Homo sapiens: one gene and its partners. The protein of the gene in region 5 purifies or fractionates together with the protein of the main gene of each other region. This does not show direct contact. Each region holds a gene or a part of one and is shown on either strand. Other genes may lie near its edges. The genes, in order: WDR47, MYCBP2, MYO1G, DSTN, SVIL, MYH2 and PAXIP1.

What was found.
Region 1: the proteins of SVIL (region 5) and WDR47 purify together in Homo sapiens (affinity purification with mass spectrometry; one large-scale study listed by BioGRID and IntAct). This does not show direct contact.
Region 2: the proteins of SVIL (region 5) and MYCBP2 purify together in Homo sapiens (affinity purification with mass spectrometry; one large-scale study listed by BioGRID and IntAct). This does not show direct contact.
Region 3: the proteins of SVIL (region 5) and MYO1G purify together in Homo sapiens (affinity purification with mass spectrometry, with the first as the bait; one study listed by BioGRID). This does not show direct contact.
Region 4: the proteins of SVIL (region 5) and DSTN purify together in Homo sapiens (affinity purification with mass spectrometry; one large-scale study listed by BioGRID and IntAct). This does not show direct contact.
Region 6: the proteins of SVIL (region 5) and MYH2 purify together in Homo sapiens (affinity purification with mass spectrometry, with the first as the bait; one study listed by BioGRID). This does not show direct contact.
Region 7: the proteins of SVIL (region 5) and PAXIP1 purify together in Homo sapiens (affinity purification with mass spectrometry; one large-scale study listed by BioGRID and IntAct). This does not show direct contact.

What each region holds. Positions count from the first base shown.
Region 1 is NC_000001.11:108,969,042-108,973,392, forward strand, and holds the end of WDR47 (WD repeat-containing protein 47), read right to left. Parts: intron 2,532-4,351; coding exon 2,389-2,531; 3' UTR 1,173-2,388; downstream 1-1,172.
Region 2 is NC_000013.11:77,319,439-77,324,094, forward strand, and holds part of MYCBP2 (E3 ubiquitin-protein ligase MYCBP2), read right to left. Parts: intron 1-4,656. UniProt on the Homo sapiens protein: Atypical E3 ubiquitin-protein ligase which specifically mediates ubiquitination of threonine and serine residues on target proteins, instead of ubiquitinating lysine residues.
Region 3 is NC_000007.14:44,968,351-44,973,006, forward strand, and holds part of MYO1G (unconventional myosin-Ig), read right to left. Parts: intron 3,876-4,656; coding exon 3,765-3,875; intron 3,440-3,764; coding exon 3,323-3,439; intron 2,710-3,322; coding exon 2,485-2,709; intron 2,388-2,484; coding exon 2,242-2,387; intron 1,805-2,241; coding exon 1,690-1,804; intron 1,526-1,689; coding exon 1,355-1,525; intron 1,134-1,354; coding exon 1,063-1,133; intron 1-1,062. UniProt on the Homo sapiens protein: Unconventional myosin required during immune response for detection of rare antigen-presenting cells by regulating T-cell migration. Unconventional myosins are actin-based motor molecules with ATPase activity and serve in intracellular movements.
Region 4 is NC_000020.11:17,572,630-17,577,285, forward strand, and holds part of DSTN (destrin), read left to right. Parts: intron 1-4,656. UniProt on the Homo sapiens protein: Actin-depolymerizing protein. Severs actin filaments (F-actin) and binds to actin monomers (G-actin). Acts in a pH-independent manner.
Region 5 is NC_000010.11:29,460,102-29,464,757, forward strand, and holds part of SVIL (supervillin), read right to left. Parts: intron 3,535-4,656; coding exon 3,391-3,534; intron 2,301-3,390; coding exon 2,176-2,300; intron 1-2,175.
Region 6 is NC_000017.11:10,520,187-10,523,848, forward strand, and holds the end of MYH2 (myosin-2), read right to left. Parts: coding exon 3,573-3,662; intron 3,481-3,572; coding exon 3,310-3,480; intron 3,227-3,309; coding exon 3,122-3,226; intron 3,000-3,121; coding exon 2,904-2,999; intron 1,247-2,903; coding exon 1,094-1,246; 3' UTR 962-1,093; downstream 1-961. UniProt on the Homo sapiens protein: Myosins are actin-based motor molecules with ATPase activity essential for muscle contraction.
Region 7 is NC_000007.14:154,975,625-154,980,280, reverse strand, and holds part of PAXIP1 (PAX-interacting protein 1), read left to right. Parts: intron 1-3,949; coding exon 3,950-4,585; intron 4,586-4,656.

The DNA of each region.
Region 1 (4,351 bases), on a different chromosome or scaffold from region 5:
ATCTCTACTAAAAATACAAAAATTAGCTGGGTGTGGTGGTGCGCACCTGTAATCCCAGCTACTTGGGAGGCTGAGGCGGGAGAATTGCTGGAGGTGGAGGTTGCAGTGAGCCTGAGATCGCACCACTACACTCCAGTCTGGGCGACAGAGCGAGACTCTTGTCTCAAAAAAAAGAAAAAAAGTAATAGCTCTTTCCCAAAACAAACCCCCTTCTTGCCTGGGGACTAGATTGCCTCCTTTGTAGGACTAACAAATTAGCCACAAGATTAGAAATTACAGTTTAGGAGTCATAGAGCTGGAGGCTACAAGATTCTGACCCTCCCCATATTGCTCCTGGGGATAACATCATTATTGTAAAACCTAAGATCAGAGATTGAGATATTTCCCAGACCCTGCACTTGATGGATCAGCTGACATCTGCCATATCAGTAAACTGGCTCATCTTGTGGCCCCCACCCAGGAACTGACTCAAGACAGATTTGACTCCCTATGATTTCATCTCCAACCCAACCCATCAGCACTCCCAATTTACTAGGAGTGAACCCCACCCACCAAATTATCCTTAAAAACTCTGATCCTGGAATGCTCAGGGAGAGTGATTTGAGTGATAAAACTCCAGTCTTCTGCACAGCTGGCTCTGCATGAATAACTCTTTCTCTATTGCAATTCCCTTGTCTTGAATAAATTGGCTCTATCTAGGCAGAGGGCATGGTGAACCTGTTGGGTGATTACCTAATTCGACATATTCATACTCTTGAGTTCAAATTTATACATATTGTTAGGCTTTTATTAGTCAACTTTCACAACATATTAAGGATAGAAAGTTCTCTAAATCTTGGATAAAAGAGACAGAAGACACACAAAAGTTATACAGGCCAGGCACAATGGCTCACGCCCATAATCCCAACACTTCAGGAGGTTGACTCAGGAGAATCACTTGAGGCCAAGAGTTCAAGACCAACCTGGACAAAGCAAGACCCCATTTTTAGAAAAATTATTTTTTTGTTAATAAGTTATACAGTTGCCAAGGATTAAAAAGCAAATTAGTAGAAGAACTTTAGAAAGAAATCTAAGAAACTGATTATGGACTTCATCCACTGGACCTCACTTTCTCCCAGTAAACTGAAAAAATAACATTATTTTGAAAGCCAAAGACTGAGGAACAGAAACAGTTTTAAATGTCAAGAGGTCTTTATTGAAATAATAGCACAGTTACACTTCTAATACCCTTTCCACTTGTATACAACAGATGAAAAATGCTTGCTACATACAGTGCACAGACAGTTCAATAATGAGAACTAATACAACTGCATTTGAAATAAATAAAATAGCCTATTTAAATAATTTAAAGTAAAATTACTGTACAATATGAAAATAAAGATACATAAATGTTAGAATCTACAAAGCTGTAGAAATAAAATCATTATTCTGCATTACACAAAACAGTGCAAGAAAAAAATCCAAATAAGCTTTTGGAGTGCAAAGTTTAAATCTTCCATTTTAAATTATCATGCAGACATAGCATTTCAAGCCATGCTATGGTCTATGTCAAGGATTTTAATTTTTAAGGAGAAAAATGCCAGTAAATTTACTGTACCATCAAGTGTTGCATCACATAACTGCTGCTGCTCTGCTTCTACAGTTCAGTTTGGAAGGGAGGTATCCTGTTGCATTCAAAAAACTGAAGTTAACAAGTTTCTGAAGCAAACACATTTACCTTTTAGCCTGAAACAAAATTATATGACAAAATAATCATATCCCTGGGTTTAAGAAAAAAGGGCCTATACCATGTAGTAAACTAAGAAGCAGTTTTTCATTCATCTTTAAACTCCACAATGATCCTTAAGTGAAAGCAACCATGTAACTTTTGAGTGACATATATTATGGAATTCTGACCTCTAGAAGACAAGTGATAATACAATATGGGATCGTGAGAAGAGCAAAAGTAATTCTGAACACCTGGGAAGTTTAATCTGGGAGGAACTTGGTTGCATTACATTTAATAATATAGTTGAAGTATAATTCCATTTCAATGTGCATATAAAACTGTTATTTAGGCAAAGACCAAGGAATGCATTGAATACTAAACCGTAAACACATTGTCCATCCTGACTTGGAGTGCACACCAACAACTGAAGAGCTCTTCTGCAGACTTTGGCAACGAGACTACATATAGCAGGTCACAGCAGCACGAGCTCACATGGAAGACTGAAAGCACTGCGGAATAACACCACCCAACACCTCCTATCAGTGGGATACATGGTAATAAGGGGCCTCTTCGTGCTAAACCACTTTCCTGGACACTATGTTCTTCAGATTTGTAATTTTCACAACTCAGTAGTCTTAAGTCTCTGTGCTTTTGCTGCATAGACTGACATGCGGTGTGCTCTACCCATTGTAAGTCCAGAGGGTGACAGTTCTATCTGCAGAGGATGACAGGAAGGAAAGATCCTGGGTGTGCCATCTGCACTGAATCACTTTGTCCTTGTGCTCCCCCACCACCATGATAGGAAGCTGCTTGGTGAGGTCCCCTAAATTACAAAAGAGATGTTGATTTACAATGCAAAATAAGTATATGTATAGATTGTATAGACTTCCTGTTACTTTAAGACATTACAGTATAAAAAATCTTAAACTACATTAATATAATACATTGAAAGGTTTATACAGGGATAAATTACTACCTACCTAATTATGCTATTAGTATTTGCTAACATATACCCATACAGCAACATTTGACAAGTTGCCTCTCTCTCTCTCTCGGAAATTCTCTCAACTTGATTTCTCCCTGATTTCAGTGCCACTTCATCTTTTGCTAGTTTCCCTTTTCTTCTTGACGTAAAGCTTGGTGAATCCCAGGAGTCAACCCTCAGATTTCTTCTGTTCTCTCTGTACCTAACTTCCTAAAAAATTTCATCTAGCAACATGGCCATTTATATATTTACAATTCATACATATTTTATCTCCAATCTTGGTTCTCATCTGAGCTCCAGACTAGTATCCAAATAGTCATTCAATATCTCACTTGTCTGATAGTCATCCTAATTTAAACTTGTCTAAAACCAAACTCTTGGTTTTCTTGCCTAAACCTGTTCCTCCCCTTACCTGCCTCCCTTATCTCAATGGCACCATCTGGTTGCTCATGACAAAAACCTAGGAATCGTCATTGATTCCTTTTCCCCTCACTCCTCAAAGCTGATCCAAACAAAATATATCTCAAATTTAGTCATTTCTTACTACCTCCACCTCCACCACCCTAGTCCAAGCCACCATCATCTCACCTGAACTATTCCAACAGCCTCCTCACTGACATTTATATTTCTACTCTTGCCCCCTTACAATCTACTCTCCCTACAGAACCCCAAATTCTCCAAAAATATAATTCAGCTCCTATCCCTTCCAGTTAAAATCTTCCAAAGGCTTCACATTATACTTTTTAAAATGCTTATAGCCCACCAACTATAATAAATGTACCACTGTGGAAGGGGATACTGATAATGGGGGAGGCAGGCTATGCATGTGTGAGTCAGGAGTATATGGGAAATCTCCGTATCTCTCAATTTTGCTGTTAACCTATAACTGCTATTAAAAATAAAGCCCTTAAAAAAAATGTCTATAGGCCGGGCGCGGTGGCTCACGCCTGTAATCCCAGCACTTTGGGAGGCCAAGGCAGGCAGATCACGAGGTCAGGAGATCAAGACCATCAAGATCAAGGCTAACATGGTGAAACTCTGTCTCTACTAAAAATACAAAAAATTAGCCAGGTGTGGTGGCGGGCGCCTGTAGTTCCAGCTACTTGGGAGGCTGAGGCAGGAGAATGGCATGAACTGGGAGGTGGAGCTTGCAGTGAGCCGACATTGCACCACTGCGCTCCAGCCTGGGCGACAGAGCGAGACTCTGTCTCAGAAAAAAAAAAAAAAAAAGTCTATAAAACCCTGCCTCTGATTTATTCTTCTGTGTCTCTCTCTCTTAGTTCACTAAGTTCCAGGCACATTGGCTTCCTGTAGTGTCATGAACGTGCTAAGCTGGTTCCTACTTCAGCATCTTTATACTTGCTGTGCTCTTCTCCTAATATCCTGGCCTGGCTTGTTCCTCCTCATCATTCTGGTCTCTATGCAAATGGCATTTCCTTGGAGAGACCTACTCCAATTATCCTATTTAAAATAGCCTTCCCCCTGCAGTGAGCCAAGATGCACCACTGCACTCCAGCCTGGGCAACAGAACAAGACTCTGTCTCAAAATAAATAAATAAATAGCCTTCCCCTATTCACCCTAGTCACTATCTCCCTACCATACTAATTTTTTAAACAGCACAAATACCTAAAATTACATTGTTTATTGGTTTACTTTT
Region 2 (4,656 bases), on a different chromosome or scaffold from region 5:
CTTGGTGCTCTGCTACCCTTAAAATTAAGTTTTGGGTTGAAGCCTTAGATTTTTCCTCTTACTGTATATGTGTTTCTTTACATGATGCTAAATAAATTTCCTTTTACATTTTGCCCCCAATTATCTTCCACCTTGCATCATCTTTCTCCAATCTATCAATGTTATTTACCAAAAGCCATCTGATGATTGTCCTCATAATTAATTTCTCTGAACTTCTCAAAAGCCTAGTGCACTCACCAGTGCATTCCCTTCAACAGGAATAGCATTCCAACTCACCACCAGTGAAAGTTTTAAGTTGCATAGCTACAGTGCATGCCAAGCGTTATCAGTATTAGTGCTCCATCTAGCACCAGAATCGATTCTCATTGCCAGCCAGCCAGCCAATAATCCAGCTTCAAAACCTCACTGTAAAGTCTACTTTCTGAGACCACTCCTGGCACCAACTGCTTTGGGTAGGAGGGTTCCCAGGAAACAGACTCTCAAATGCAGATGTGCACACCGGAAGTTTATTGCGGAGTGCCCTCCGAACCAACAACTGTGGGGCAGTGAAAGACGTAAGACTGAACAGAGGAAGGAGTTGATCTGCAATGCAGTCCCAGGAAGCCCTCAGCCAGACCCATGGGAGAGCTCTCTGGTGTTGGGATAGACTTCAAGGTTGGCTTGTCTTATAGCAAAAGCGCTAGGCATTTATATCCCTACACTGTATAGATATTAGATGTAAACTGCCCCTGAAGAGGAGGCATGACTCTGGGGGAGGCAACTCTTGGCTCAGGGCAATGCGTGGAGTGGGACTCAGCTGCAATCAGTTTTAGCTGCCAATATTGCCAAGAGCTAGGGGAACATGTGCCTGAAAGCGGGATCTGAAAGCCTAACCACAGCACCTGCCACACCACCACTGGACTATTACACCAATTTGGCTAATGAGGGAAGAGAATTAAGCATTTATGCTGCTGGATTAGGAGAAACTACATTTCACTGACAGTCAGTGAAGGCCAACTCTTCTTTGCAGAAGAGTACCAGCTAATAAACATAGAAGAAATAACAGAATTATTTTTTAATTCATCATTTTGCAACCCCTAATGAAATTATTGACTCAGACAAGGATTATCAAAGAATGCTAAAAGCATTAGGTAAAAGGCATTCACAATGTGCTCAAATTTTTACCCTGTGATTACTTGTTCTTTACAAATGGAAAAAGCATACATTTACAGAGATGAAATCTAGTAGGTACCGTCTTACCCAAGTAATCAGATTTAACATATTAAATAGTGAGACAACCTCACAACCTCTGGATGGGATGCAACATGCAGTACCCAGCGCCATATACAATATTCTTGCTAAAAAATTTTCTAATGAACACCTAATAAACCCTTAAGGTCTAGCTTCCACTTACAGGAAATACAGATACAAGACAGAAAGATGAACAATACCTGGGGGCCCTGCCCTTAAGGAGCTAGATTTATATGACATTCTAGAAAAGGTAAAATATTAGTGACAGAAAACTGATTTGCAGCGGTCAGTAACCAGGGGTAGGAGGGCCTGACAGAACTTTTTATATGAAGTGATGGAAACAGTCTATACTTGACTGTGGTGATAGTTTCAGGACTCTTCAAATGAACATTTAAAGAGGATGAATTTTATTGTATATAAATTAAACCTCAATTAACCTAACCCCTCCTCAGAAAACCTAAATGTTTAATCTGGTTTTTGAGAAAAAAGTGAGACTATTCTGTTGATTTTTTAAACAAATATATTAAAGGACAAAAGTATTTTTAGATTGACATTTTTATTTTCCTTTTAAGCCCAGAGGCAAGATTTTTTTCTTCTCTTGAGTTAGGAAACTAATTCATTTCACATTTCTACCTACCAGTATACCAATAGAGCAGTTTTTGCCTTAACTTGTGTTTATACACTATACAGGATTCCACTGATATAACAGCTACATGAAGAAAATTACTACCTATGCACAAATACAGATGTACACATACAGATTCAATCCCGCATTACTTCCTGACATATTCCTACAATAAATAACGTCTCTTCATAGCTTAAAACCATCAAGGGTGATCAGTGTCTACTGAATAAAATCTAATTCTTACCTTGGTCTTCAAGATGCCCCATCCTAGCCAAAGCCTCCATTTCCAGAATGAATTCCACTACTGTCCTTCATGACACCTGCATTCTAGCTCTAACAGAATTCCTACTGTTACCTACATACAAACTGTGCTTTCCTGTCTCTGCTGATGCTTTTAAGCCAGCCTAGAATGCCATGCCTTTGTCATAGTAGGTTATACTTTCTTGGTCATTTCATTTAACACTTCTATAAGTATCTGCCTTTGTATCTTGCACTTCCAGATAGACAGTAAACTCAAGTCTAGAATTTGTGTCTTATAAATTTTTATAGGGCCAATGGTTAGTGCCAAGTAATAATCCCTGAGCAAGCTGAGCATGGTGGCTCACACCCATAATCCCAGCACTTTGGGAGGTGGAGGTGGGAGGATCACTTAAGCTCAGGAGTTCAAGACCAGCCTGGACAACATGGTGAGACCCTGTGTCTACAAAAAATAAAAAACAAGCCAGGCATGGTGGTGCATGCCTGTAGTCCCAGCTACTGGAGGAGACTGAGGCAGGAAGATCACTTGAGCCCAAGAGGTTGAGGCTGCAGTGAGCTATGTTCACACCATTGCACTCCAGCCTGCCTCAAAATAAGTAAAATAAAATAATCCCTGAACTTTTGCTAAAATGACTACTTAACCTCTTACAACCAAAATCCCATGCATCTGAAGGATGGACTCAAATACCATTTCTAACAAGAAAGAGATAAAGCAGCTGAAAAAACTAAGGGGGTTAAGTTTAGATTCCCCATTTTGGTCACAATCCCCTCTATTGTTTTCACTAACATTGTTCTTCTAGGACTTCAGGACCCAGATACTCTGACTCCTCTTTATCTTCCAGTCTATCAGTTCCCTCTTGGCATCACTTTCCTTTTTACCATATAGTCAAACACTGTCCCCAAAACCTTCCATTTCTTTTTTCTTTAACCCTAAATCAACTCAACTAGGTTTTCTCCATTTCTATTTTGTGTGGAAAAACATACAGTGCCATGCTGGTTGGAATTTTAAATGTGATTTTAATAATAACAACAGGTAACATTTCATGGGCACTTACCAGGTGCGGACATAATGTCCTTTTGATAACACTACAAAGTTACAAGTAAAGAAACAGACAAAGTCTAATTAACTTGCCCAATTTAACACAAGTAGAAAAAGGTAGACGTGAACTAAGGGAGTCTACCTCCAGTGCTCTAACATTTAGCCACTGTGCTATGGTGCCTCCCAAGTGCATGGTTATACCACCATTCACATTCAGAACAGATCATACATTCCTTCATACATTTCCTGTCCAACCCCTTTCCCCAACAGAATGTTCCGATTTTGATTGGCCTCATTCATCCAAAAATATATCTATTCAGTCACTGGATAAATGAAAGAGTTATTCCCACATTCTACACAGTCACTGAGACCAAAAATAAAAGAGTAAGACATGATCCTTGCCTTCTCTTCAAGTCCCCACACCCCTCATTCTCAGCAAAAACAAACAGACAAAAAACAGTAACTAATATTTCATAGCAGTCAACATGCCAAGCACATACATTGATTCATTTAATCTACAAAACAATTCATGTTAGTATTATGATCCCCATTCTACATATTTAAAAAACTGAGGCATAGAAGTTATGTAATATACTCAAAGTTACACAGCTAGCAAATGACAAAACCAGGATGCAAAACCAGTCTAGCTTCTGTGCCCAAGCTCTTAACCACTTTGTTAGACTGTCATCAAAGTCACTGAGTCCATTAGGTTTGAAACTCTCAACTTCTCAACTGTACACCTAAAGCAAAGAGTAATTAATTCATTTGACATTGACTGATAACTCACTCATCATGTTTTTGTTTCTTGAACACAAGCCTGTTCCCATTTCAAGGCCTTTATAAATTCCCAGAACATTCTTCCTCTACATCTGCCTCCTCATCATGGCAATTCAATTTAAATGCCAACTCTCAAAGAGACATTTCCTGACCATGTTACCTAAAATAGCCCCACTACAAATTGCCCTATCACATGAAATAGGTTTTATTGCCTTCACAGTTACTTATTACTAAGTGAAATTATGAGTTGTCTATTTCTCCCATTGGAGTGGATTTTCCAAGACGGCAGAGACTTTGTCTATCTTGCTCACCGCTACATCTTCAGCATCTGCAATACTGCCTGGCACAGAGCAGGCACTTGATGTTTACAGAATTCATGCCAAAAAATGTGCTAGACATTGGGATTATCAAAACGAATAGGATATGATGCCTATCCTCAATAAACTCCCAGTCTTTATATTTACAAGTACTCACCTCCACCCCTTCTATATTAACTGCTCCTTTTTTCAATGGCTAACCTCTCCACCTGTCACCTTAACTCTATCCCTGAGATCCCTTTGACCTCTTCCTGTCCCTGAGATCCCTTTGACCTTTTCCTATCAATTATCCCCTCTCTCACTTCTTCACTCTGTCTCTCCATTTAGCCTCCCATATTTGCATATCCCACCCAACCTCCTATACTTGAATATCCTTCCCTCAACTTTGAAATCCCCTTGAGTTACCAAAA
Region 3 (4,656 bases), on a different chromosome or scaffold from region 5:
CTACAACTATGACTAGGAACTCCTGAGTCCTGGGCCTATTTTGATCTGTGGGCACTGAGAGCCTCAGAATCACTGTCTAGTTCTTGGACTGCTAGAAAGGTCAGTGCCAAATCTTGGCTCCAACTGCAGCACCTATGAAGGCTCAGGGAATGGATTTTTTTTTTTTTTTTTTGAGAAATAGTCTCACTCTCTTGCCCAGGCTGGAGTGCAGTGGTGCGATCTCAGTTCGCCACAACCTCTACCTCCCAGGTTCAAGCAGTTCTTGTGCCTCAGCCTCCCGAGCAACTGGCATTACAGGCACGCGTCATCGTGCCCGGATAATTTTTATATTTTTAGTACAGATGAGGTTTTGCCATGTTGGCCAGGCTGGTCTCGAACTCTTGGCCTCAGGTGATCCACCCACTTTGGCCTCCCAAAGTGCTGGGGTTACAGGCATGAGCGACCTCATGGGTGTAGATTTTGCGAACAGATAAAGGTAGATGATATTGGGCTGCTTTGTTGTCATCATCTATTCTATTCCCTCTCCTTGAGAAGTTCTCATGAAACACTTATACCTTGATGTGAGTCACCTTAAATCGTTTTGGGATGCGGCAAGCAACACATAAGTTAATAGCCATCATGACAACCCCTGAAGACACCTGGGCTTTGGCACTGGGAGCGTGGTCCAAGTATGGTAGCGAGGCCTCACCTGGGAGCTTGTTAGAAATGCAGAATCTTGGCCCCCCTGCACCTTCCACTCCCTCCCCACCCCCACATCACCAGCCTGAAGCCCCCCACCCCACAGATGCTGGTATAGGGTTGGGCCCAGACATGAGACGTGGGTATTTTTTAAAGGCTCCCAGAAGAATGCAGCCATGGTTAACCACTATCCTCAAACCCTGTTTCCTGCTCTTCACTTGTGAATCTGCTGTCCGGCATGTTTCAGTGTCTTAAAGGGGTGGGGGTGGCAGAAGTGGCCATAACACCTGTCTCCGAGCCACTCCCCTGAAGCGCTCCTGCCCCATGACACATGCCATGGTGCCTGTGGGAAAGCCAGGGATGTGGGTGGGAGGGGGCCCTTACGTGACGTCCCCTGCATAGTGCTTGATCCGGAAGTCTCGGCCAAACTCCATGGTCTTGTCTGTGGGGCAGAGCTATGGGGACAGGCTGAGGTCAAGGCACAAAAGGTATGTGGAGGGTCTGTATGAAGGGATAGCCCTGCCTCCCCACCTCCAGGGCAGAGAAGGTTGCCACAGTGACGACAATGGCACCAAAGCTGGGTCCCCAACCAGGCCCCACGAGGCATGGGCAGCATGGTGCCTGTGGGGCAGGTCCCACCAGCCCACTGTGGTGGCACTGGGACAGCCGGGGGCACCTGGCGGCTGGTGTAGTGTAGGTGATGGCGGTGGTGCATGTCCAGGGTCTGCAGGAAGATTCGGTCAGTGATGGTGCCAGCAGAGCTGCAGGCCTCGTCCAGCACGGCCAGGATGCCACGGTGGGGCCGCTCCACCAGATCCACAATGGTGGCGTTGTTGAAATACTCAACCTGGGGCAAAGGCAGCCAGCAAGGAAGCTCCCAAGGTCTTTCAGGCCACCTCCCCTCCTCCGCCCCACACTCAGCCACCTGTCAGGCCAGCCCGGGCCCCTCCCCATGGGCTGAGGCCCCTCCACACCCCACTGCCTGGCCTCCCTCCAGGCCACAGTGCTCACGCTCTGCCAGGTGATGCCCTCGCGCTCGTACTCTTCCTGTTCCTGCTTCAGGATGAGCTGGATGAATAGCTGCTGCAGCTTCTCGTTGCAGTAGTTGATGCAGAACTGCTCGAAACTGGGGGTGGGGTGGGCCTTTCAGAGGGGAGGTCGCTGCTTGTGGAGTGCATGGTAATGGGTGGCTGCTCCCCTGAACATCTCTGCTAATGTTCATTGAGGGTTCTGGTGCCAGCACCCTGTGTGGCTTCCCTGTGGCTTATGCATCCCTGCCCTGGACTCCTTTACCCCACCCACACCTCCTGCATGCACGTTCTGGAGTGGACTTGGGAGTCACAACCAGGAATTACTCATGCCCCGTAATTCTGCCTTCCATCAGGACATCAATGGTCAGAGGGTGCAGGTGAGGCAGGTTTGGGAGGCATGAGCCTTGGGCCCAGGGACCAGCCGGGAGAAACCCCAACATTCCTGCTGCCCAGCCCCAGCCGAGCTTTCCAGAACTAAGTGGGCAAAGCTGCTGGGTGTCAGAGGTGGAGATGTGGCTGGCCAGCCACCCACCTGTTGACGGGAAACACCTCGAAGCCATAGATGTCCAGCACGCCAATGACTGTGTCCTTGCCATCACGCCGAGGATCCCGGCCCCGGGGTTCCATGACACTGTTGATCCTGTTCACCACCCACTCAAACAGCCGCTGGTACACTGCCTGGGGGATAGGAACACCCTGCTTCCTGCTGCCTCTGGCCTGGCCTCCCCCATGAAGGCCTCCTGGGCTTCCCTCCCTGTGCCTGCCCCCAAAGTACCTTGGCACAGGCATCCCGGGCATAGCTGGCCTCAGCTGCAGTGTGGCCCTTCTCTATGAGTTCCCTGCCTCCCGAGGCAACTGTGCGAGCCAGCAGGGAGCGGAGCACGAGGTCCCGGGGTGTGGCCGTCAGCTCAGCCACATGGTCCACCAGTGCCTCCTCGGCCACTGCCAGGCCCTCCTTCTGCAGCCCACCCTCCTCCGTCTCCACAAACTCGATGTTTCCCTGGTGATGGGAAAACCATGAACAGTCCGGGCTCCATGTCTCAAAAGAGCCTGGACAACTTTGGACAAGAAGGAGGAAGGAAAGCAGGGGACATGGATGCGGTAGAGTACAGCTCCTTCTCAGACCAGCATGGTCAGCTGCTCACCATGGGCACAGACACAGCCAGAGACTGGGGGAAGGGGGCATGGGCACACCAGAGTCTCTGCCAAGGCCTCGAGGCCTCGAGTCCAAATGACATGTGAATGACCCCATCGCATCCTCCCACAGCCAGCGGAGCCCTGCACTACTTACTCCTCATGCCGCTTAGAGAGAACTGAGGCCAAGAGGCACTGAGTAAATGCAACCAAAGCCACACAGCTCATGACTGCACTAAGAGGCAGTCTGCATGATGCTCAGCTTTTACTGCGCCTGGCTGACCTGGCCCTAAGAATGGGGTCTGGACCATGTATCAACTGAGCTCATCACTCGAGCAGCTCAGCTTCTGCAGGAGAGGCAGTCAGCCTAGCACATTGCTGGGGCATCTCCAGCCAGTCTCCTCCTCATCCCTGGGTGCTTCCCAGCCAGGAAACCCTTGTGGGGAAGTAGCCCTCCCAGGCTTCTGAGCCAGGCTCACCAGGTGCAATATGGCAGCCAGGATGCGATGCACAGACTCCACCTCTTCAGGACTGAAGCCGATGACCCTCATGGCCTCGGTCACTGCCTGGTGGCTCTGCTCATCACTGTCCAAGGCCTAGGGTAGAAGGGATTCATCACTCCAAAGCCACACTGGGCCCAGGACACCTGTCTCCCTTGAGGCTTGATTCCTCCATCCTAGGCACCTGCTCACCCCTGTCCCCTGTCCCCTTCCTGAACCTGATTACTCCAGCCTAAGCACCTGCTCACCCCTGCACTCTGTCCCCTCCATCAGCCATTTTCACTCCACCCCGAGCACCCTCCCCACTCACGCAAACAGTTCACTTCACCCTGGCCTGTGCTGAGTGCTGCCCATTCCCTACCACCACACTCAGGCCCTGACACTGAGCCCAGTTTGAGCCCTTGGTGCCCCTCACACTCACACTGTGCACAGTCATGTTGAGTCCTGCTCCCTGGTGTGTGAAATTGTATACAGCAGGGTTTCTCTCCAAGTGCAGTTCATGCAGCTGCTTGTCCTCACTGCCTCTCAGCAACTAGAGGACACAGGCATCCTTTAGACAAATAAGCTCCCAGGATGTCCCCCTGTACACACACACAGGCAGGAGAACAAACAGACTTGCGCTTCCTTCCAGTATTGAACGAACAAACGTGGGGGAAGGTCAGACAGTGTGAACAGTTTCTGTGTGCCAGCAAGCTCCCCATTCAGCTGTTCAGTGGGTCAGGGAGCTCCACTTCAGTGGGAGCTATGACTCCACCATGAAGTCACTGTTCTTGTGCCAGACCTCATCTTGGTAGGGAGCTCAGTCCCTGTGGAGACATTGCCCTCGACCCAGGGGGATCCCACCTCAGTGGGTAGCTCAGAGTATGTGGAGACACTACCCGGGTCCCAAAACCTCCCACTGAGTGAGGAGGTAAGAGTTTGTGGACAAACTGCAGAATCCTAGGGAGCTCCACTTCAGTGGGAGCTCAGAGTTACTGGAGACCCTGCCCCTGTCCCAGGAAGCTCCCACCTCAGTAGGGAGCACAGGTTCCGTGGAGACATTGCTCTCCACCCAGGGAGAGCCCATGTCCTAGGGAGCTCAGCGTCTGTGGAGACACAACTGGTGCCACATGAACTCCCACCTCAGCAGGGAGCTCAGAGTCCATGGAGACACTGCCTGTGTCCCAAAAGTTCCCACTTCACTGGAGGTGGTAAGAGTCTGTGGAGATCCTGCTGTTATTCCAGAGAGCTCCACTTCAGTGGGAGCTTAGAGTCTGTGGAGACCCTGCCCTGTGTCCCAAGGGGCTCCCACTAGTGGGAAGCTCAGATTCCAC
Region 4 (4,656 bases), on a different chromosome or scaffold from region 5:
AGTATTCTAATACTTGGTGATTAGCAAAAACACTACAACCCAGTGAAATAGGTTGGGCATGTATTCACATGCCTATTTAACATATGAGAAAACAGATTGTAAAGGATTAATTGACTTGAGACAAATCACCTTTTCCAACTCCAAGTTTTAAAATAATAATTTTGAAACATTTTAAGCAGAAAAGTACACAGAATAACAGATCCTTTTGTACAGGAAAAACAGGGCTATCTTATTGCCATATTTCAGGTTTTTATGTTATCATTACAGCTAAATATGCATCATCTTCCTCATCCCACTCCCTTCCCTCCCTAGAGTTATAACCATTCCTGTGTCAAAGACATAATATCCTGGCTGGTTAAGGAGATGATTTTATTCAGGCTATTGCAATTAGGAGAGCATTCCTGATTGCCTTATTTGAAAATATGCAACAGGCCAGTTCTTTGCAGTTACCTGTTTCCCAGAACACAAAACGGTGGGGTGGATTAACCATCACTGCTTTCTGAGAACACAGAGCTCAGGTAAAGTTCACAGTAGTCACCTGAAATTGATATTCATTGATAGTTCCATACTTTTAGCTACTTAATCATTCATATGTATTGCCTTGATGTGCTTTTAAAACTTACGTAAATACTGTGCTTCATGTATCCTTTTGCAGCTCTGTGAGAAAAAATTAAACTTTGTGGGGGTGGTTTTTTTTTTCCCAGGGGAGGGCAGCTTTTGGATTTATTTGTAGCTTTGGTTCTTCAACTGCTGAATTGTGTTCTTTTGTATGATTGTGCAAGTTTATCCATTCCCCTGTTGATAGACATTCAGCCATTTCCTAATTTTTTGCCTTTTTTTGGTCTATTTAAAGTTTTTATAATAGGCAATTTCCATGTCATATATTGCTATATATTACTTCTCTAGCCCCAGTGTGTATCTCTCCATGGTGTATATCTAGAAGCGGAAGCCCTGGATTGGAGCATACATATTTTCTACTCTACTACTGGTTCGTTCTGGTTGTATCTCATCATTAACAGCTTGTTTCTACATTGCCTTTCACCACTTAATAAGAGACTTGAAACCTTTGCCAGTCTGATGGTTGTGAAATGGTTTCTCATTATTTTATTTTGCATTTCTTTGATTACTAGTGAGCTGACTCTTTTCATATGTTTATTGCATCTTAGGTTTTTACACGCATGCTGCATCCTGCAAACCTGGCCATTCTGTAAATACTTACCATCTTCACCTAAGCTTATTTGCAGAGCCATAAAGTAAATGTAGCAGTAAAAAAAAAAAAAAAAAAATCAGCTGGATACAGTGGCCTATACCTGTCATCCCAGCACGTTGGGAGGTTGAGGCAGGAGGATTGCTTGAAGCCAGGAGTTGGAGACCAGCCTGGACAATATAGTGAGACCTTGTCTGAACAAAAAAATTAAATAAAAATTAACTGGGCATGCTGGCATGTGCCTATACTCCTAGCTATTTGGGGGACTGAGGTGGGAGTATTGCTTGAGCCTGGGTGTTAGAGGCTTCTGTGAGCTATGATTGTACTACTGCACTCCAGCCTGGCCACAGCGGGAGACCCTGTCTCAAAAAACAAGAACATGATTATCAATACCAGAACCTCATACTGAGGAGTAATATTTCTCTTTTCTGGCACATAAATTTCTTTCCAGGCCCCTTAGCCAGCTAATTACCAGAAGTTCAATACTCTCTGTTAATTCTATCCACCTGCCATTTTTAGGCCCCTGGTAGTGGTAGAATGTAGAGTGACTTAGGACAGAGTTCTTTCCTTCTTTGCCAAGGGCTGTGGAGATTAATGTCCTTCACTTTACACTTACCCCTCTCTTTCCTGGCAGTTCTTCTAGCCAAAATGTAAAAGCACACACAGTAGATATATGGGAACAATGCACTTCTGCTAAAATTTGCTGTGTACCTAAAACTTCTCTAAAAAATTAAAAGTCTATAGCTGGGCGTGGTGGCACGTGCCTGTAATCCCAGCTACTCAGGAGGCTGAGGCAGGAGAATCGCTTAAACCCAGGAGGCGGAGGTTGTAGTGAGCTAAGATCGCACCATTGCACTCCAGCCTGGGTGACAGAGCGAGACTCAGTCTCAAAAAAAAAAAAAAAAAAAAAATTAAAAGTCTAAAAAACAAACATGCAAAACAAGTAAACATGACTGACTTTCTTTTCTTTCTCCTTTCCTTTCCTTTTTTTCCTTTCTTTTTTCTTTCTTTTCTTTTTCTTTTCTTTTCTTTTGTTTTTTTTTTTTTTTTTTTTTTGAGACAGACTCTCTTGCAGCCACCCAGGCTGGAGCTCAACTGCAGCCTTGATCTCCTGGGCTCAAATGATCCTCCCACCTCAGCCTGCGGAGTAGCTGGGACTACAGATGTGCACCACCACACCCAGCTAACTTTTTAAAATTTTTTGTAGAAATGAGATTTTGCTACATTGCCCAGACTGGTCTCAAACAATCTTCCCGCTTTGGCCTCCCAAAGTGTTGGGATTACAGGCATGAGCCATTGTGCCTAGTGACTATTTTTCATAAATAGAATTTGTTTAAATCAAAATTGTGTTTAACTTAGTATACAGGAAGACTTCAAATTTTTGAGTTTTTATGTTAATGTAACTTTATATTTTCTTTCAGTAATATTTGAGATGAAGCACACTACATTTGAAATTTGAAAAAAAACTTGCAAGTCTTGAAAAACTGAATTTAACATACAAATGCGTTGATTTTGTCCACAGAACAACACTCTAGTCTCTGAGTAACTAGAGCTAGTCTCTTTGTTGTACTGTCATTTGCATATGTAAACCACAGAGCATAATAAATAAGTAGAATATTGTGAAAGCATTTTTTTTTTTTTTTGGAGACAGGGTCTCATTCTGTTAACCTAGGCTGGAGTGCAGGGGCGTGAACACAACTCACTGCATCGTCCACCCTCAGGCTCAGTCAGTCCTCTACCTCAGCCTCCTGAGTAGCTGGGACTATATATAGGCAGGCACAACCACTCCCAGCTAAGCTTTGTATTTTAAAAGCTTTACATATATAAAGATGGGATTTATAAATATAAATTTATATATAAAGACGGGGTTTATAAAGATGGGGTTTCACCATGTTTGCACAGGCTGGTCTTGAACTCCTGGGCTCAAGTGATCCACCCACTTTGGCCTCTCAAAGTGCTGGGATTACAGGCATGAGCCACTGCGCCCAGCCGTGAAAGTATCTTGAGTTTACTTCTCTTGTGGCATAACATTTCTGTCTAGATTGTCCATGAAAGTCATACACAAAGATTTACACCTAACACTTCAGCAATATTGTAACCACAACTTTTCTTCTGTTCATGCCTCCTTTCATTGATGTTGGAAGTGAGAAGTTTTCACTTGGAATTGTGCTTCTGAATTACCTCCTGCTCATTTTTCTTGAAATTTTACAATTGGGAGAGGCATAGACTTAGACAAATAAACATCGGTTTTATTCATCTCAGTAATACTTTGGGCCAAAATGTTATATTCATCATTGAATCTGCTGTACTAAGACCCCCATTGAGTTGAATATTTAGAGTGATTCTTAGCTCCAAGATTAGTCTTCTAGAAGCTGATACTGTAATACTTACATGCTGCCAACACTATTCCATGTTTTGCTTTGTTATGTTTTACGTAGATTTTTTGTTTGGAGGTTCTAGCAGGGGAGCGCAGCTGCTCATATAACCTTGACCAAAGACCGGTTCTCCTCTATCAGGAATGGTCATCCTCTTTGACCGAGTGCATAGCTTTGAGAGGGATGCACATGGAGTGGTGAGGGAGGAAGGGGACACCTGCCTAGCCAGCCAGATCAGCCGAATCAACCCTGGTGATCAATGGGGTGACAGATGTTGCAGCCAGATCGCCCTCACATCATACGTAGATTTTTTAAAAGCAATTGATTTCAGTAAAAAATGCAATTAAAGTTTTAAAATTAACAAAGTAATCTCTAATTGAAGGTGTGAAAAGACTGAGAACGTCTGTTGCAGCACGGCATAGATGAGTGCTTGAAAGATAGAAACTTAAGTTCATTCTACACCTGGAAGGTCATTTGTCATTGTGTTTGTGCTTTTGGATCACATCAAAGGAAGATTGTTTACTCCTTTGAACATTTTTACATTACTTCATAGGTTGTTATTTCTGTTTGCCTTCTCACAGGAAAGCAAGGATGAATTTCCTACCCTTGTTTCTATCTTGGCTTGCTTTCAGAAAATAGCTTGTAAATGTAATTAGTGTTTATTTTAAAATGGTTTCACAACTTTTCTGTTGCTATTTTCATGTACAGGTGGAGCATCCCTAATCTAAAAATCCAAAATTCTCTAAAATCCCAAACTTTTTGAACACCAACATATGGAAAATTCTACATCTCACCTCATGCGACAAGTCAAAATGCAGACAAAACTTTCACACATAGAATTATTTAAAATATCATATAAAATAATTTTCAGGCTATGGGTATAAAGTGTATATGAAACACAAATGAATTTTGTGTTTGGACTTGGGTCCTATTCCCAAGCTATCTCATTATGTATATGCAAATATTCCAAAATTTGAAAATATCTGAAATCAAATGCTTGGTACCGGAAGGTACTTAACCTGTAGTAATAGAACTAACACTAAAGCACAGCACAGGCAAATACAGGTAAGGCTT
Region 5 (4,656 bases):
AGAGGCGAATTTTGGATGATCTTGCCTGCGTCTGAGTACTGACTCCTCCACTCACTGAAAGTCACTTTGGCCAAGTGACTTCGTGTTTTTGTGTCTCTGCTCCCACACCAGTAAAATGGGAATAATAATAAGATATCTTGATGGACTGTTGTGATAAATGAGAAAATCAGTGTAAAGTGCTTGGAGATGTGCCTAGTGCAGAGTGGGCACTTGCTGAATGTTAATTATTTGTATAACTTGCTGGTGTGGGAAGCCTGACTCTTCTCCGGCTGGAATCCCACAGGCCTGCACAACAGTAAATGGCCCCGCTGCTAACCCCCAAGATCTATAGTGAATACACAGGGAGGATGGTGAGTTATATCCTTCTGAAAGTGGCTCAACTGTGCCACAGAACTGATGTTTATGATTTCTTTGGAATAAACGTCGAAATTAACTCTCCTAGTCTTGAAATTCGAGAAAGTTATATTTGTCTTATCTGAGTTCCTTTCTCAGGAAACCAACCATCAGGCATCTCCAATAGTATCAAAAAGCCAGCAGTGGCTCATGCTTGTAATCCCAGCACTTTGAGAGGCTGAGGTGGGCAGATGGCTTGAGCTCAGGAGTTCAAGACCAGACTGAGAGACATGGCAAAACCTCATTGAAAATACAAAACAAATTAGCCAGGCATTATGGTGTGTGCTTGTAGTCCCAGCTACCTGGGAGGCTGATGTGGGAGGATTGTCTGAGCCTGGAGCTGGAGGCTGCAGTGAGCTGTGATTACACCACTGCACTCCAGCCTGGGCAACAGAGCAAGACCCTGTCTCAAAAAACAAAAACAAAACCTGAAGCTTACCAGACCCCTTACCCACCATGATGCCTAACCAACCCCCCGCTTCCTGTTGACCAGCTCCTCTTCCTCACCCCTCCCTAATTCCTGTTTCCCACACATGGTTACATTTCTTCCCTGCTATAAAAATCCCTAATTTTAGTAGGCCAGAGACACAGATTTGAGACTTATGTCCTGTTCCCCTTGGCTGTAGCACCCAAATAAACTTTCTTCCTTGGCTATGCTTGTCTCAGTGATTGGCTTTCTTCTGTGTAGTGAGCAATAAGCCCTGGACTGAACCCCTGGCAATTTGGTAACTCCTGAACTTAGACTGCATGCAGCAGCCATAGAGCTCGTAATCCCTAGAGCCTTCTGGTTTCACGAAACCACAGTTGCAGTGAACAGAAACATCTCGTTCCGGCTGCGGCAGACACCAAGCTGAAGTCAGCCCCTTCCCTGTGTACATCAAGTCCATTTGGCTCCAGGGAGACAGGTTAGGGTGAGCAGTGATGTCTGTACTACCCAACAGGCCCTCTCCATTGCTAAGCAGAAGTAGATTCTGTTTGTTTAAAATTACTCGAATTTCCTATAAAATACACTTGGGTCGTTTCCCCAAGCAAAGCAGCTCTCACATGGTAAAAAAAAATCAAAATGGTAAAAAACCTATCTCTCACCAAATCAAAACAAATCCTTGGATTTGCTATTCCTAGCAATGTTAATAGCTCATATATAAGAAATTCAACATAGCTATAATAAAATTCTTTCCTGTGTGGTTGGAAAAGAAAACATTCTAGATTATAATATATTTTGGTGGATAGAAGTTATGATAAATGCCTCATGCAGAAATACCAGGTGGTCTCATAAAAGACAATATTAATGAGATGTTGAGTGATCCCTTATCATAAGGGAGTCGCAGCACCTCCATTCATTCAGTTTTCTGAACATACTAATTCATCAGATTTCGTTTGTGTCTCCTCTACACAAGGTTAACATCTGAAACATGAGGGTTTGGTTGTGCGTCACATGGACACTGAGAGACAAGCAATGCCAAGCAACAGGTTCTTAGCAAACAGAATGAAGAGTTCGCAGCTTTTATGTACATATATAGTCCTCAACATGATTCAACTCACCTTTGCTTTTAAGTTTTTAAAATTTGGGTATCGTGTAGAAAATTACTAAAATAGTTAATTGATTTTCCATTAGACTTCTCTTCTTCCTAAGCAAATTCTATGTAGGTTTGTTAAGATGTTGCAAAAGGAAAAATATTTTCCCACTCTGAAAGTGCAATTGGATGCTCTCCCCAAAGTAAAGTTAACCCACAATCCAAAAGGCGCAGGAGCCACCTTCATAGGGCAGGAAAGCGTGCTCACCATCTCTGTGATCTCAGCGATGTCCTCTCTGTGCTCCCAGCTGGGAAACATATTGGTGAATGTCAGGGGCTCCAGACCAGCGTGGATAAGGTAAGACTTGGGGGCTGGTTTCTTGAGATTTTTTCCTGTAGTTACACAGATTGCAATGTCAGTAGACCCCAGGGAGACCCTGTCTTTCTCTGATTTCCCTTGAAATCTTTTCTTCTTTGCCAGAACTCATGACTTCATGCTTAAAATGCAAGTTACCAGTAGTTCATAACAACACATGGATAATGTTTATATAAGATGTTTGTTAGTTTCATGCCTGTGACTACCATAGTGACCTATAATCAACCTGAGTCTATACTTCTTGAACCTAACAAAACGCTGTGTATTCCTGGAAGGGAGAGAGAGGCTCTGTCTGCAGCTTCTGGGTGGAGCATTTTCTTCCTCCTGAATTCACCTGTAGAGTCATCCGTCTCATTTCCTAGCACAGGATTAACTCCCATAATGACTGACGGCGAACGACAGCATCTTATACATCCACATTCACTATAACATTGAGTGGAAGGTTTCATATGTTATTTATTGCTAAAGAGTTTTTCAGGAAGAGAATCCATTGCACATACTCAGTGACATTAAACTAGTTGTGTCAATGAAACCATAAAAATTAAATAAGATTAATTACTGGCATTTTCATTTTATATAAAAGACTAGAAATTTCATGTGTATAGTAAAGAACCATGAACTTACTATGGGTATTTCTCTTTGGATATAATACTAAAAATAATAATGAATAATAAAAAGGTTGGCAATGGCCGTTCACTGTTTGGGGGAGACCTCCATTCTCCAACAGCGTGGTAGTGCTTGCAGATAATGTACAGGGCAGAGGCCAACTTGTCTCTCAGCATGATCAACCCCGAGTACAGCGGGGTTTTAATCTGCCTGGGGCATTCCACAATACAGCCTTTATCCTTGAGGGTAACAAGTTAGCCTCATAATATCAGAGAGAAAAACTAGTTCTTCTTCATGCTGGCAGCTGAGAATGCGCTAATCTAAAACTTAATACATCTCAAAAAGTTAAAGGGGAAAAAATTGGTTTCATCACCACCTGCCAGGCTTTATGGATGGATGCTGGCTGACATGCACAGAAGGGGAAGGGGGTCTCCTGGCTGCGCATGCCTGAGGGGCTTCCCCATCTGTTCCGTGCTGCAGGCATGTTAGAGGGAGCCTCACCTTTGCAGTACTGGAGCACAGTCTCCATCGCACTCTTCCGGTCGGAGGCCCAGCGGATGCGGGCGGAACCAGTGATCTTGTTCTCGATGGGCCACCAGCCTTGCCAGAGGTACACCTCGTGGTGATTGTCAACAAGGAAAAGTGCTGTGAGGGCAGGGACAGGGCCAGACCATCAGGAGCTCCTTCACGGACACTTCTAGCTCACTCCTCCCCCAACCTAGTGGATGTTGTCCCTCTTGACTGCAGTGTCACAGGGGGAAACCCCCTTGGCCATCAAACCAGGGGCAAAGGGGCAAACAGAGAAACCCAGGATACCCCAGCCCTTTGACAGTTCAACGGGGAGAAGCCTGTAGGCAGAGAGAAGTGGTGTCAAGGAGTTGGTCTTTTTCATTCCTCGTCCTCCAGGTCCTCCTCCCTTTGCCCCAGCTCAAGGCCCTGGCCCTTCTGGATACTGGCAGGGCTGTGCTAAGAGTGGAAGGGATAATGCATGTGCCACTCAAGGGGCTGTTAGCACCGCATATCTCCAAAGAGCACAATCAACACTGGAGCGCACATCTCACTGCAGACAGGTCAGTGGCGTTCCTGCCCTGCACGCGATTGCTTAGCAGTGAGGTGAGCTCATGGCTCTCTTACAGAGAAATGGGCCTTAAAAAGCAAAACTGCCACCGGGAGTGGTGGCTCATGCCTGTAATCCCAGTGCTTTGGGAGGCTGAGGAGGAAGGACTGCTTGAGCCCGGAGGTTGAAGACCAGCCTGGGCCACATGATGAGACCCTATCTCTACAAAAAGAAAAAAAAAATTAGCGAGGCATGGTGCTGCATGCATGTAGTCTCCACTACTCAGGAAGCTAAGGAGAGAGGATCGCTTGAGCCCAAGAGTTAGAGGCTGCAGTGAGCCATGACTGCGCCACTGCACTCCAGCCTGGATGACAGAGTAAGACCCTGTCTCTAAAAAATAAAATAAAAGGAAATAAAAATCAAAACTGTTCTACTGCCTTTTCCTCCTACCTTTTTCTCCTCCTCAAATTGTCAGTCTGACTCTTACTCCAGGTGGCAAAATGCCTCTCACTCTTGCTAGTCGGCTCACTGTAAGTCCTTTCCTGACATGCATTTCAGGATTCTGTGAAAACCACACTTTAAAAGCCCAGTGGAGGTTGATAACCCGCCCTGAGCCCCAGGATGAAGGGCGTGGGCACACCCTCTCTTACTGGTGGCTGATTTTCCAAGCATGACATGTGCACTGGGCAAACTTTCAGTGCTGCCCTGAG
Region 6 (3,662 bases), on a different chromosome or scaffold from region 5:
TTAAACTACCATGTCTAATTTACATCATTTTCACACAGTGCCATTTAGACCAAGATACTCTTGCTTTCTATTTGATGGGAAGTTACCATTTAGCTCTTCCTTTATTCTGTCGAGGAAGGTTATATTTTTGGCTATGCATCTCAGCTGCATCCAGTTTAAAAATCTTGATCCTCTAGGAAAACGTCTCTGAGTGGTCCAGATTGCTATGATATCTACTTTTTGTACCAAACTCATACCCATCATTATGTGTGTTGAATATAGATTTGAATAACCTACTTTGAGATCATATTTTCTTGACACTTTTAGTCATTTATTTTGGCTCTTTATATGATTATCTGGGAGACCATAAAGATTGGAAACATAAGCTAATAGCTCATGGATACTACATTATAACGTAAAAATAATATTCTCTATGTCTCCAGATTTGATAGACACCCTGTAGTTTTCATAGGGAGAAGAGTCATATTTAATTTAATTTTGAAACTTGCTTCGTGAAGAACAAGGTCGTGTCAAACCCATTACCCAGTGCACCTACTGTGGGCATATGGTACATTGGAATTGATAATGTAAATATCCATGGGCTAATTAAGAATATTTTGTATTTATATTCTTGATAACAGTTATTCAACAAAGAGAATTAATGATACAATTCAGTTTGAATCCCCTATGTGAGAATATAGCTAGTACTATCCTGAAAAAGGTTCATGTTAGGGGAAGCAGGAGCTTTCTAAGATTTTACTGTACTCAGATATCAGGAAAGGTTAGAAAGAAATAAAATAGACTTCCAAATTTCTGTTCATTAGAACAGTCTTTCTGGATAAGTGACATCTTTACAGCCTTAAAGTGTTGCCGTAGACCCCCAAAAAAGTCACCAATTGAATGTGATTGTTTGACAACTCTGGTGACTATTCAAACTTTGACATGGCTTCAGGAAAGAGAAAAGACAAGACCAGTCTAAGGATATTGTTTGCAAACTACCCTATGCTTTATTTCCTTTGCAACAGGGTAGAATACACAATAATTACAGAGGGAAATGACCAAAGATGTCACATTTTGTGCCTGTCTTCAGTCATTCCATGGCATCAGGACATGATCACTCTTCACTTATGACTTTTGTGTGAACCTCCCGGCTCTTCACCCGCAGTTTGTTCACCTGGGACTCAGCAATGTCAGCCCGTTCCTCGGCCTCCTCCAGCTCATGCTGGAGCTTGCGGAATTTAGCTAGATTGGTGTTGGATTGTTCCTCCTGAGAATAAAAATGGAATTGTAAGGAACTCATACTTGCATCTTTCTAGACTCTTTAGACCTAATAGAAGAAAGGACTTGGCATCTATGGAGAAGCAACATCTAGGGATTATCATTGAAATTAATTTTAAGATTTGTTTATTGATGTCATATATATATATATATATATACACACACACATACATACATACGTATCTCACATTCCTATTTTGGCAACCAAAACACATAAAATATATGTACCACAAGTAGAATAAGAAGAAAAATATAAGCTTAGAGAGGAAGGCAAGAATATTAAAGTCATAGTTGTTAATGCTTGCTATAAGATGATGATTTTCCCTTGAGTTAGATTTTTTTTATCATATTAAGAATGAACTTATTAAGTTTTTAAAAATTGAAATAAATATTGGATTTTGTCATGTATCATTTTGGCACATTTCAAAATGGTTACTTTTTTCCTCCTGCATTGGATGTAATGATTCTATTGACAGATAACCTAATATTAGGTAATCTTTACATTGTAAGAATTAACCTTATTTAATCACTGGAAGACAATTCCTTTAATAAAGTAAGACTTACTACTTAGTAATTTATCTTTGCTGTAACTGTCTTTATGAGTAAAATTGCCTTTAGTTTTTCTCCCTCTGTCCTCTCTTGGGCAGGTTTTGGTATGAGGGTTATGTGAGCTTCTTAAAATGAACTGGACAGCTTTCTATCTTTTCCCATGCTCTTGAACAGCTACATAGCTGGGGGATTATCTGTTCCTTGAAATTTTGAAAGACCTATCTGGACTTGGGTCCATTTCCAGAAGTAATTCAGCCAACTTAGTAATTTATATCCTCCTAGAAAAATCATCAATTTTTTTCAGGGTTTCAACTTTATTGATAGATGTGTTTTATATTAAAAAATAATCCTCTATGTATATAGCTTATTCCCTTTCTCATTTCTAATGTTGTTTATATTTTCTCTCTTATTTTCCTTGATGAAACTAGTTATAATACATTTATTTTATTAATTCCCCAGAAGTTACAAATATTACTGAAGTTATCAAATAGAAAATAGTATACTCTAATTCACCAATTTCTACTTTTATTTTTAACAGTACTTCTTACTTCTACTGTTTTATTATTATTTATAATTTATTTATTGGACTGTCTGTTTGTTTATTTTTACTTTTGGTTCATAATGAAAGCATTTAAAGCAATGAATTAGCCTCCTAGCACAGCTTTGACTACATTCTGTAGGTTTGTAAAAGTAGCATCTTCCTTGTGATTTTACTTATAATTAATAATTATTTAGTAATTATGTTTTTATTTTTACTTTAAACCAAGAGTTATTTAAGAAAGTTAGTTTTTTTAATATTTAAGTACTCAAGAATTTTTGCTTATATTTTGTCATCACTTTACAACTCCGTCATACTGTGGCCGGAGAATATGGCCTGTATTATTTCTGCTTTTAATTTTTTTCAGGATTCTTGGTGGATTGAAAGTTTACTTTTAAAATGAAGCTACTGATATTACAAATGATACACAAGAATTATTGTACAAAAACAAATGTTAAATATGCATGCAGTAGTCTTTAAAGCAAACAGCTTGTTCACTACAAGAAGTAGTAATTATTTATTAGCTTAATTTGAGGACTTCAATCTTAAAAATACTTACAGCCTCCTCAGCTTGTCTCTTATAAGATTTCACTTTTGCCTGAAGTTTATCTACCAAATCTTGAAGCCTGAGAATATTCTTTCTATCTTCTTCCGTCTGAAAGATTATAAAAAGTCCAGGACCTTAATTACTAAAGCACATGACTATTGCATCATTGCATATGAGTATTTCACATAAACTTCGACCAGTGCTTAGCCGCTAAAAACTACTGGCTGTACCTGGTAAGTGAGTTCCTTCACTCGCCTCTCATGTTTGCGCAGACCTTTGACAGCCTCAGCATTACGCTTTTGCTCACTCTCAACCTCTCCTTCCAGCTCCCGTACCTGCAAATAAGTAGGCTCTTAAGAACTTTGATCCAATAAGGCACTGAAAGCAGATGGAAATAGACAGATATTGGGAGACCCACCCTGGCCTCCAGTTTCTGGATCTGCTTCTTCCCACCCTTCAGGGCCAGCTGCTCAGCCTCATCCAGACGGAGCTGCAGATCCTTCACGGTCTGCTCCATGTTCTTCTTCATCCGCTCCAGGTGGGCGCTGGTGTCCTGCTCCTTCTTCAGCTCCTCAGCCATCATGGCGGCCTAAATAGCAAATAAATCAAGAAAACCAAGAAAGTTATAGATGTCAGGAAATCTTACTGCTAAATCAGTGGACAAGTGTGCCTGCCACTCACATCAGTGATGGCCTTCTTGGCCTTTTCTTCTGCATTGCGGGCTTCCTGGAGAATGTCCTCCATCTCTCCTTGCATTTGGGAAATATCTGT
Region 7 (4,656 bases), on a different chromosome or scaffold from region 5:
CAGTTTCCAATAAAATTCAATTAAAAAAAAAACTGACTAACTTGTAAATTTTTGAATAAGCTAGAAATAATTCCTTTTATTTTTATTTTTATTTTTCTGGAAAATTAAGTACATACCTCCAGATATTTTTTAATATGACTGATGGTACGTTACCAGAATGTTTGTAGGGTAATTCCTCGACTATGCAGCATTGTCTTGATCATTCTAGGACTTAGCATTCCCTCAACCATTTCCTTCCAGCCAGCTTTTGTGACAAATACAATAGGCTCTCACAAATTTCCAAAATTTCGGGGAGTGGTAACAGCTCTTCTTTAGTGTCACTGCGTTAGTTTCAGCCAAGATCACAGGATCAGAAATTGACAGTTGGACTTCATGCTCATGTCTGTCTGTTGTCTTTAAGGCAATAGTGTTTCATTCCTGTTGGATCCTGGTAGGCCATGCACCCTTCTATGGCGTGGTGTTCCCTGCCTCACCTCGCCTCTTCCCTGGTTCTTTCTAACTCACCCCTTGAAGGCTGAGAAGCACCAGTCTATAAAATGAACTGAAGGAACCATATATTCTGGCATAGTCTATTTATAAAACCAAAATGGTTATATTAATTATATTAATTATTATTTACATTATAATTAACATAATATAATTATGTTCTTGATTCACGATTATGTTATGTTTGTGGCTTATGTAACTCAATAACCACAAATATTTGAAAAATTAAATCCCTTTAAAAAGACTTAATTTTTATCATTCCTTTAAATTATTGTATTTTATAATCTATTCAGACATAAATTTGTAAACCTAATAGTGGTGAATTTAAATAGTTTCTTCTAATTTGTAAGTTTTATGAGTGCTAGAGACCAGCTGACTGTACACAAAAATAACATTTCTTTTTAAAGTAAATGTTTTTGTTTTCTTTAATGAGCACATAGCAAAAGCTTGTGCAAATGGCCTAATAAAACTACCTTTTATACTCTTGAAGTTTAAAAGTTTCAAATTAAGAAGAATGAAAGAATTTATAACTTAAAACCAACAGAAACGGGGTATGGTTATTAGTTGTTGGGGAGAGGGGACATGGTTGACCCTTGAGGTCCTTAGCCCTTAGTGAGTTAGAAGTTTTGAGGATACAAAATTTAGAATAATTTAGCTGATAAATTGGGTCAGGCAAAGGCATCTAAACATTGCTTTCCTCTTAAATCATCTTTGTTTAAACAGTTACTGTCTTTCAGTGATTAAAAACTACCTATCTTGTGAAAAGCGAGAGAAAACTTGAGTGAAATATAGTAAGGCTGTTTACCTAAGTGTTTTACTTAGATTTCCACAGGAAATAGTCAAGTTATTTCTGAAATGTGAAATGCCAGCATTCTATACAAACTAGGAACTCAAGAGCCTACTGGATCCCAGCCTTTTAAGTGTGAAATTATCTTTTTCATATCCAAAATTTTCAGTGACTCCTCTTCATGGCAGTAGTTTTGTTTTGTTTTTTGGTATTTGTTAAAACAATTAAAAATAACTTTTTTTCATATTTTACTATTTCAACAGATATCTTTTTAACTTGGAAAAATCATATGTAAACCATATTACATATAGTCATATGTTATTCAAGCAGATGATATTTTTGTATTAATTGGTTCATAAATATTCTGCTGTGTACCTGGACTTCATATTTTCCTAAAATAACTTGGGTTTTTCTGGAATGGGTAGTCCAGAAATTGAAAATCTCTAGTAGAAATTTATCATCTGGGGAGAGCTATATAACATTTTATGCTTTTAAATATTTAAGAACAGCATGATTTTTTAGGGTAAAGAATAAGACATTTTATTGTCGAGGGTATAGGTAAATTGATGTACTCTTACATAGCTGTTGGAAGTGTAATTGGAATAGCCTTTTTGGGAAGGGAAGTGTAGTTAGAGATATGAAGCCTTAAATCTATTCCTTTTCAAACCTCAACACCAAAACCTAGGAATTTGTCATAAAATATAACTGCAGTTTTTCATAGTAGTGAAACACTGGAAACAACCACGTGGCTAACACTGGGGGATGAACTAAGGTACACAGCTGTGCAACCGAAGAGGAAACTGTAAAAGCCTTTGAGACTACTGGGGAGATCTGAATAGGGCCTGAGGATGAGGTGAATCATAGTTCATTGTGCTGCTATGATAATTATGGTGGTTTAGAAAGTCTTTATCAATTTGAGATCCGTAAACAAAGTTCAGGAGAAGCAAGATTTGTAAAAGATTGCCAGTTATTAAAGCTGGGTGACAGATACAAGGGATTTATTCCACTAGTCTCTAATTTGGTCTGCGTTCGAAAATGTACATTAAAAAGTTTGGTCTGCGTTCGAAAATGTACATTAAAAAGTTTGGTCTGTGTTCGAAAATGTACATTAAAAAGTTAAAAACAAAAGCATAAAAGTATACATGTTTTCATAGGAAGAGGTTGTTCACAATATATTAAGTGAAAAAGGAACATTATAAAGTATTTGTTCACTATGACTATATGTTTTTTCCCTTTGCCCTTTTAATATATGTACATATATATTTATAACAAAAATAAATTTAAACTATACCCTAAAAATGTTAATCGTGGTCCTTTCTAGTCAGTGTGATTATGATTACATTCATTTTCCTTTGCTTAGCTTCTTATTCATGGGTGTCTCCCATGACTAGGTTTTTCTTATATTTTAAAAAGGTTTGAGAAAGAACAAACTCACAAACACAAGTTAAGTCACTGAGCTGTGTGCAGAGCTCACTATTTGCAAGGATCTCCCAGATGGGCAATGCCTGGCGTTCGCTGCCAGGACCGAATGACCAACAGCTGTCCTCTCTGTGCTGCTGCCCCGCATCCCTATTGCGTGTGACTCTTATTCCACCCAGAAATTGCAAATGCCACCTTGGGGCTCTGCAACAGGACACGGAGTTTAGTTTAGGGCCCTGATTATGTGTTTGCTAGAGAATTGCTGTTATGTGTTAAGCTTTTAGGAGCACAGCCAAATTTACAACTCATTTATTTTAAGGTTACTTTATTGTCATATTACTCTTATTTAACATTTTTTATTTATTTCCTCTTTCTTTGTTATTCCCTCCCCTGTGCCTTCCACATTCTACACCCTTTACCACAGGAGAGGTCTCTGTTAGCTTGCCGAACATACTACTCCGGACACATCTTTTCCAGTGGGCTGTATTTTCTGCTTTCATTCTAACTGTGCAAATTGTCATCATTTGTGCCCCAGCCAAAGCTCACCTTTCAACGGGGCTTTCCTCCTGCCCTCCAGCTTATGTTGATGAGATTCCCTTCCAGTCTGTTACTGCATCATTCAGCAGTGGTTTTATATTGTATTTGCATTCCGTATTTAATATCTCTTTAGAACCAAATTGTGAGCCTTGTTAGGTCAGAGACTTGTTGCATCCTTTGTGTCTCCATCCCTTAGTGCTGCTTGGCATATAGCATGAGCTCCATAAATACTGGATCTTGAATAGAGCTGTCCTATGCAAGTCAGCCAAGTCAGCCATGCTCCATGAGTGTACGTGATGCATTGGCGGCACTCTGCCACGCTGTTACTTTACTAACTGTCATGGAAAACCAAGCTTCTAAATATTATCAATCAGTAAAAACTTAGGTAGCAATTATTCATTTCATAATTTTCCATAGGATTACTAGCTCTACTTTTGTACTTAAAATATCATTTTAAAAAGTTAATTTTCAGCCAAGTCTTTTAAGACTCCTGCTACAGGTGTGAGACCTTCCTATGATCACTGCTGTATGGTTCCTTTTCACTTTTGCCTCATGTCCTCTGTCTAAAAGATCAAACGTTGCTTCTGTATAAAATTGTAATAATAGTTGCTCAACATTTCAACTGCATTCCTTGACTGAGTTTTTTCTAAAATGCGTAATTGTAGGAAATGTGATAAAATTTACAGCTTTGTTTTGTGTGTGTTTCTGCTTTCCTCGTAGGAGAAATACGAATGTGCTTTAAAGCGAGCAAGTATTAAAATTGTGACTCCTGACTGGGTTCTGGATTGCGTATCAGAGAAAACCAAAAAGGACGAAGCATTTTATCATCCTCGTCTGATTATTTATGAAGAGGAAGAAGAGGAAGAGGAAGAGGAGGAGGAAGTAGAAAATGAGGAACAAGATTCTCAGAATGAGGGTAGTACAGATGAGAAGTCAAGCCCTGCCAGCTCTCAAGAAGGGTCTCCTTCAGGTGACCAGCAGTTTTCACCTAAATCCAACACTGAAAAATCTAAAGGGGAATTAATGTTTGATGATTCTTCAGATTCATCACCGGAAAAACAGGAGAGAAATTTAAACTGGACCCCGGCCGAAGTCCCACAGTTAGCTGCAGCAAAACGCAGGCTGCCTCAGGGAAAGGAGCCTGGGTTGATTAACTTGTGTGCCAATGTCCCACCCGTCCCAGGTAACATTTTGCCCCCTGAGGTCCGGGGTAATTTAATGGCTGCTGGACAAAACCTCCAAAGTTCTGAAAGATCAGAAATGATAGCTACCTGGAGTCCAGCTGTACGGACACTGAGGAATATTACTAATAATGCTGACATTCAGCAGATGAACCGGCCATCAAATGTAGCACATGTAAGTCACTCTTTCCGAAAAAAATGTCAGTATTGGATCTTAGAATTGGATTTCACAGTCTATTTCAATGT